Homo sapiens: one gene and its partner. The protein of the gene in region 1 purifies or fractionates together with the protein of each later gene. This does not show direct contact. Each region holds a gene or a part of one and is shown on either strand. Other genes may lie near its edges. The genes, in order: DEAF1 and AMOTL1.

Evidence for each region.
Region 2: the proteins of DEAF1 (region 1) and AMOTL1 purify together in Homo sapiens (affinity purification with mass spectrometry, with the first as the bait; one large-scale study listed by BioGRID). This does not show direct contact.

Annotation. Positions count from the first base shown.
Region 1 is NC_000011.10:681,689-685,505, forward strand, and holds part of DEAF1 (deformed epidermal autoregulatory factor 1 homolog), read right to left. Parts: intron 3,276-3,817; coding exon 3,210-3,275; intron 1-3,209. UniProt on the Homo sapiens protein: Transcription factor that binds to sequence with multiple copies of 5'-TTC[CG]G-3' present in its own promoter and that of the HNRPA2B1 gene. Down-regulates transcription of these genes.
Region 2 is NC_000011.10:94,799,078-94,802,894, reverse strand, and holds part of AMOTL1 (angiomotin-like protein 1), read right to left. Parts: intron 3,506-3,817; coding exon 2,584-3,505; intron 2,557-2,583; exon of another isoform or gene 1-2,556. UniProt on the Homo sapiens protein: Inhibits the Wnt/beta-catenin signaling pathway, probably by recruiting CTNNB1 to recycling endosomes and hence preventing its translocation to the nucleus.

The DNA of each region.
Region 1 (3,817 bases):
CGTGAGCCACCACGCCCGGCCGACTTTTTTTTTTAAATAATTTATATCTCTTCATTGACATTCTCCAGTGAGGAGACAGTGTCTTCAGACCTTCCATGCAATCTCTAGCTGTGGTTTCCTTCAGTCCTCTGAACATACTGAGGATAGCCATTTTAAAGCTTTTTCCTGTTAACCCCAACATCCGGACCTCTCCAGGCAATTTCTGTTGCCTGCTTTCTTCCTGTGTATGGTCCAAGGCTCCTTGCATGTCTTATCATCTTTTGTTAAGAATCAGACACCGCAGGTGATACATTGTAGCAACAGTGGAAAGCAGTTCTCCTTTCTCTGGGATCCTTGCTGCTGTCAGCTTGTTTATTACTCAGGTACGGAGCTGGACTATCTTACTGAGCCTGTTCTCCTGGGGCGGCCTCGGCTGCTGCTCCTCTGAGGGCTCGGCCCTGGGTGGGGTGCAATCACCTTTGGTGGTGGGAGTTTTGGCTGTCGCTCTTCCTGATCTCTGTTAAGCTGTTGGTGTAGTCAAGTGTCAGAATCAACTAACTGCCAGCTGCCTGCTCCATTACTTTCAACAATGCCCTGGGGCACACACTGCTCCACTGTCTGAGCCAATTAAATTAGGGCTTCTTTACTGAGAGGTTCGATCTTGAAGGTCGGTTTCCCAGATGGGTTCTTCGCTGTGGCTTTCCTCGCCTCTCTGGTAAACCTGCTGACCTACAGTTTAGTTTCTTGCTCTAATGGAACTGCTGGCCTCCTCTTAACTGCTTACCATCAAAATGTCCATTCTTTTCCAGGGCACTTTTAGGCTTGAACATCCCCATACTGTTTCAAATCAAGTCAGTTCCTTTGGGAGGGGCTTTGGAGCTCTCTGTTCTTACGGCCTCTCTCTCTTTTGGGCTGAATGTCTGAGCCCCTACTATAGACCTAGAGGCAGGAACAGTGCCTGAGTCTATCAGAGGGAATTCTGTTGCATTAGCCGGGTTCTGTGTGGGGGGCAGCAGCCTCTCACTGCATGGACACCCCACCCTATGGGCAATGTGGGTTGATGGAAATTGGGGCTCCGTATGCTTGGCCTCCCATGCCTGGGTAAAGCCTCTGCCCTCTGAGTGGGGATGACTGAAGAGATTTTCAGTCACACTTCCCAGGAATTTACTGCAACTTAGAGCTGAAGGGGTTGAGAAATGCTGGTGGCCTGCCCCTCCCAGTGAGATACCATATCCCTTGACCGGGAACTGCAAGGAGTGGGAACCGTTTTCTTGGTCACAACCACCCACAATGGAGCCTCCACCATAGGGAGCTGGGGGCAGAAAGGGAGGGAAGGAGCTGGTCGTAGCTCAAACGTCACAATCCTCACTGCCCTTTCCAAGACTTACTACATTTTCTTGGATGTTTATTTGCTGTACTCCCCTAGGACAATTTCTGGAGACCTTAAGGGGTTATTTTTTCACAATTTTCACTAGTTATTTCTCTGGAGAGTTGGTCCACTGAGCTCATCACACCACCACTCCCCAAGCGGAAGCCAAAAGTTCTAAAATTTGATGAAGTCCAATCCAAGAAATCCTAGTTCTAACTCCAGGTCAGGAAGATTTTCCAATGTGTTTTCTCCTAAAAATGTTATAGTTTCACCTTTCACTTTAGATCGATGACCCATTTTGAATTCATTTTTGTACCAAGTGTGAAGTTTAGGTCATCCTTTGTCTCTGCTGATGAACGTCCTGTCACTCCAAGGCCATTTGCTGGAGTCTACTATGACACTCTAGTCTGACCCAGATCGTGGGGTCTCTCCCTCTGCCAGTGCCACACTATCTTGATTACTGTCACGAGCCCGTAAGTCTTAAGACCCCGCAATGTGATTCCACCCATTTTAAACTTTTATTTCAAAACTGTTTTGGCTTTTTTGTTTCAAAACTGTTTTGGCTTTTTTATTTCCTTTACCTTTCTATGCAAATTTTAGAATCAGCTTGTCTGCATCTAAAAAGAATCCTGCTGGGATTTTGATAGTCATTGTGTTAAACCTACGAATCAACTTGGGAAAAAGTCGCATCTTTACTGAGTCTTCTAATCCACGGGCGCAGGACGTCTTTTGACGTATTTCAATCTTCCCTGGTCTCTCTCTTCAGCATTTTCTTTAGTATCTTCCACGTACAAACCCTGTACATGATTTCCTAGACTGACATCTAAGTACTTCAGTGTTGGAGCCCCTGCAAATGATCTACCTGCAGGCTCAACTGCCAATGGGACCGACGTCTCCTCCCGGCTCCTTTACTCCTGCAGCGTCTCTAAGAGTCTCACCGACTGGCTTTTCCCAATCAACTTCAAAATTATTTTACGTTCACAAAATTGTTTTTTCCACTAGAATCACATGAAATCTATATATCAACTACACAATTCTAGGATGTTTAGTGTTTCACCCCAAGAACACGGTAGGTCTCTCCATGCTCTTTTTTTTTTTTTTTGAGGTGCAGTGGCTCACGCCTGTAATCTCAACACTTTGGGAGGCTGAGGCGGGCGGATCACATGTGGTCAGGAGTTTGAGACCAGCCTGACCAACATGGCAAAACCCCATCTCTACTAAAAATACAAAAATTAGCTGGGCATTGTGGCACATGCCTGTAATCCCAGCTACGCGGGAAGCTGAGGCAGGAGAAGTGCTTGAATCCAGGAGGCGGAGGTTGCAGTGAGCCGAGACCGCGCCACTGCACCCCAGTGTGGGCGACAGAATGAGACTTCGTCTCAGAAAAAAAAAAAGAAAGAAAAATTATTTTGGGTCTTTGTGAAGCAGTTAAGAATTTAGAATAAGGAAATACGTCAAAAAGGCGTTAAAAGCTCTACACATGAATAAGTTTACAGTAGCATTTTTCTGACATGTTACAAAATGAGGAATATAAAATGGCATGCATACAAGGAAAAGCGTGTATGTTTAGTTTTAGAGTTAAGGCGGTGACATTATAACCGCTTTTCATTATTTAAGGTTTCCACAAATGTTCTTTGAGCAACATCTTGGGGGCCAACCACGTGTTCCCCATCGAGACATCAGGATTCACTGTGACGTATCAGGGAGGAGGGAACAGAGCAACCCAGGAGAAGTGAGGACAGTGTCTCTCTCCAAGGCAGAGGGCAGGAGGGAAACAGCCGAGAGGCCAAGGGCTGTGGGACCCACTCAGCCGCCCCCAGCCCCACCAAGTCATCCTGTTCCAGACACGCTGGCCACTTACTAAGGTCATGTCGTCGCAGCAGGCAGCACAGGTGCAAGAGGCAGCGTGAGGGTTTAAGATCCCATCCTGAGATGTGAAAAGAACCACCATGCATTAGCAAGTCAGCCCCTAAATGTCAATCATTCAATAATAGAAGATTTCAACCACTTTTACCACTTACCTACCATTCATAAATATAAAAATTCTTTTTTTTTTTTTTTTTTTTGAGACAGAGTCTTGTTGGGTTGCCCAGGCTGGAGTGCAGTGGCACGTTCTCGGCTCAGTGCAACCTCTGCCTCCCCGGCGCAAGCAATTCTCATGCCTCGGCCTCCCAAGAAGCTGGGATTATAGGTTTGCACCACCACACCCAGCTAATTTTTGTATTTTTAGTAGAGACAGGTTTTGCCATGTTGACCAGGCTGGTCTCGAACTCCTGGCCTCAAGCAATCTGCCCGCCTCGGCCTCCCGAAGTGCTGGGATTACAAGCGTAAGCCACCGTGCCCAACCTCATAAAGATAAAAATTCTGCAAAATCAGGGCCGGGCATGGTGGCTCATGCCTGTAATCCCAGGACTTTGAGAGGCCGACGCAGGCAGACCACCTGAGCTCAGGAGCTGGAGACCAGCCTGG
Region 2 (3,817 bases), about 94 Mb from region 1:
TGTCTTCTGGGTCACAGGCAAGTTGAACATGACACACTGCTGAGTTTCAGGTCCAATCCTTCGAGTTCAGGCCACGTTAAATGTGTCTGAAGCAGGGCTGGTGTGGATGCAATATTGTTTACCCAGTCAGCCAAGGGCTGCACCACTGGAGCCATGCTGGCTAGCCATGGCCCTGTTCACAAAGGGGCCTTGTGGCTCTGGGACCCAGCCTCAATGGCCTGTCTGTTACGTCTCCTGAGACATTTGATGCGTCATATTAACCAGCTGCCAAGCCTGGCAGTCAGCTCAAATCCCTCACACATTTCTTCTTCTTTCTAACGTCATAACTTTGAGAAAAATGACCTCCAAAAGTGTTCCCCTCCTCCCCTGACCATTTCTCCCACCTCACATCACACCTATTACCAAATGACAAAAGGCAAAGTGATCCACTGTATGCATTGCACGGTATGTACATATTACTTTACAAATAGTAAAGCAAAGAAGAGGAAGGGGATTTCATTTCAGGATAGCTTCCCCTCTATCAAGCTCTAGAGGCTGAGTTAAGTTATCAGGGAAAAGGGTGAAATATAATAAGCCAAACTCTGGTATGATGGTGGAATAACATCATGGCTTATTTTAAACAACTGTGGTAAATCACTGTGATGCAAATACCAGGGATTTGATCAAGGAGCTATAAAGGGGGAAGAAGAGCCTCCTGGATCCCATCTTGGATTCCTGGGAGGAGTCCGGTTATGCCCACTTAGGGAGAATGCGTTCTCCTGCCTGGCCAAGATCTCACAGTTGGTTATGCTGCTTCTGAGCTGGCATTCTCAGTCTAATGTGGGGAAATGTGTCAGTGCTGGGAAGCCAGTGGCAGATCAGGCCACTCTCCCTCTGCCAACCTCCAGCCTCTCCTTTTTCAGAAGATGTACAGCCAAGGTATGTCCTGCACATAGCCACTGAGGTCGCTTGGGAAAACCCTGGCTTGTTCAATTTAGAAACAGATAATAAAGCCCTTCATGAAAATGACACATCCAATAATAGGCAGTGGCCACATGTCTTTTCTGTTCATGTTCCCTGCCCCTCCTTCAATGTCAGCAACATCTAAACATTTCTGACTCCCAAAGTGTGATCTTCAGACCCAATTTCTCTCCTGAGAGTTTGATTCGTAATTCCCTTATTTCCATCATCCCTATTCCAGAATTTCTGTATCTAACCAATCCCTAAACCCTGTCAGTTCTATTTCCCTACCTCTCTTAGCACATAATGCTCCTCTATTCTCCCTGCCCAAGCTTTGGCCACCCTCACCAATTCTGATCTGGACTACTGAAAGCATCCCTGGAGCTCCTTGTGGCGTGGGGCTCCCTTTCCTCTAATTCATGCACTGCCACCAAAATCAGCTGTTAGACATCCACTTACCATCCCTACCTAAGAACACCGCTTTTCCCGATTGCTTATGGATACATTCTAAACTCCTTAATACGACACCCAGAGACCGTCATCATCAACTTCCCTGTCCAAACATACCTCAACCAAACGGGTCCCAACTTCCCTGTCCAAACATATCTCCTGTCACTTCTTACCACACCCTTGCCCACCAGTGCTCTGCATTATTGCCACTCATTCCAGACAAAAATCCTCATGACCTCTTTGTCTGAAGACACGGCACTCCCTCACACAGCACATACTGCTACTTCATCTCTACCCTACAACTCTGATTTATCCTTCAAGTTCCAACTCAAATGTCACCTCCTCTGGGAAGCTCTCTCCAGCCCCTCCAGTTGTGAGTTATACTATCCTACCTGTTACCCTAGCATCCTCGGCCCATTTCTCTCCTAGAACAGCACATTGAATGGCAATGATCTGTTCAGATGCTGGTTTCCTCCAAGACAATGCTATAGGGTCCTGAAGGGCAGGGACCCCATCTCTGAACCAGGAACAGGGCTTCAGAGTACAGCATACACTCAGTAGGTGCTGCTGAATCCATCAATCAACTGGAAGAATACAAGTGAAGGCTGTAGGAAGAATTAGGGCAAGGGAGTGAATAGATTTTGGCAGTCAGGATACTTGAGTGTAGCCCCCAGCTGCCTCAGAGTTGTGTCTATGAAATTCATTAATCTCTCCAGGCTTTAGTTTCTCATCTGTTGAGTGAGGGATGGGACTATGTGATTTCTACAGTCCCTTTAACTCCTCCATTCTAGCATTCAGACTACATTTTCCTTTAAAATCTACAATGAAAAAAGACTATAAAACCCTCTGGTAATAATATGTTCCAGGAGTTTGGACGGTCTCCACAAAGCCATTGGAAAATTGCTACTTTGCCAGGCCACTAGGCAGAGCTCCCAAGGACAGCTAACAAGTGAGGTCCCTCCCCTAAACTCATAAATCCCCAACTGCCTGCTGCTATGTTTGGAGAAAATCCCTCAGTTGCCCTCTACTCTATTTCACCCTATATATTCTGGCCACAAAGTGGTTTATTAAATATCATGCATAAGGAAAAAAGCCTGATGACAAAAACCTAATCTGCTCTGAAAATAATAAATGCTAATAACATGACTATTGAATTTTGAAAAGCCGCACGAAACGTCTGCAGTTGATAATCACCTCGTTACCCCATACTCAGGGGGTGGCTGGTACCGCAGGACGGCCACATCTGTTCTCACAGGCTGAGGAGCAGGGTAGGGCTTGACCATCTCGTGGAGCATCCCGGGGTGCTGGTCACCATAAAAAAGTCCGTGCTCCTGGGTCTTGCTGACTGGGGACATCATTTGCTTGGTCTTGAAGGGGTACTCAGGTGGAGGACCCCGAGGGTCCAGCACTTTACCTGCAGGCTGGGCAGGGGAGGGCCCCCCTCCTACTTTGAAGCCCTTTCCATTCCCCGAGCCGGGAAGGTGTTGCTTGGCCCCATTCCTCTCCAGGGACAGCTGCATGATTCTCTCGCTGAGCGAGCGGACGTGGCCCTGCTTCAGTTCCTTCAGCGCCTCGTCCTTATGCGCCTGTCCACTGTTGGCACGGTTCACAGTGGGCCTCCCCTCAGTTCGGGACTTCTGACTGGTGCCCCCTGCCATGTAGTAACCATGGCCCACCGCCCCCTGCTGCTGTTGCTGCTGCTGCTGCCCCCTGAAGAACTGCGACTGTGCTTTGGCCTCCTCGTAAGTGGGCAGTTCCTCGTTGTTCTGCTGAGGCTGCGTGGACCGGACCTGTTTCTCCATCACCGTATTGTCCACCTGGTGTTCTTGACCCTGCGGTTCTTGGCGTGCTGACTGGTAGACCATTTGTGGGTCTTCTTGAGTGAGGTTTTCCGTGGAAGAAAAGTTGTTTGTAGGATGGGCTGGTCCTGCACTCCCTGTGGCCTGGTGCTGAATGGCCAGCAAGTTCATGTTCTCGGTTGGGGTGCCATACCGCAGTTGTTCCTGGATCAGCCGCTGCAATACTGTTCCAGCTGCCGCATCCTCGGAACCTCTCATTTCCACCTCTGAGATCCTCAGGAAGTTTGGGGAGTGGAAGTTACAAAGAGGATCTTCAACTAAAAGATAAACATAGGAAAAAAGATATCAGGCAGCTCCACAGGAGATATATGTCTGTGACTATGTGGTACATAATTAACATTCTAACTACAGCAACATTTAAAAATAAGATTTCAAATGCATCATCACCTCCATTTACCTGGCAATGTCTCATGGAATTTTCTTCTCCAATTCAAAGCGAGTCTACTATTCTGCACTCCCTCTCCTCTGCTTCCTCTTAAACATTGTTCCATCCTTCAACCCCTCCCTTTTCTCTAATCTCCCCACCGGTCCTTTCTCTTCATCACATAAATATACCCAAGTCTTTCCCA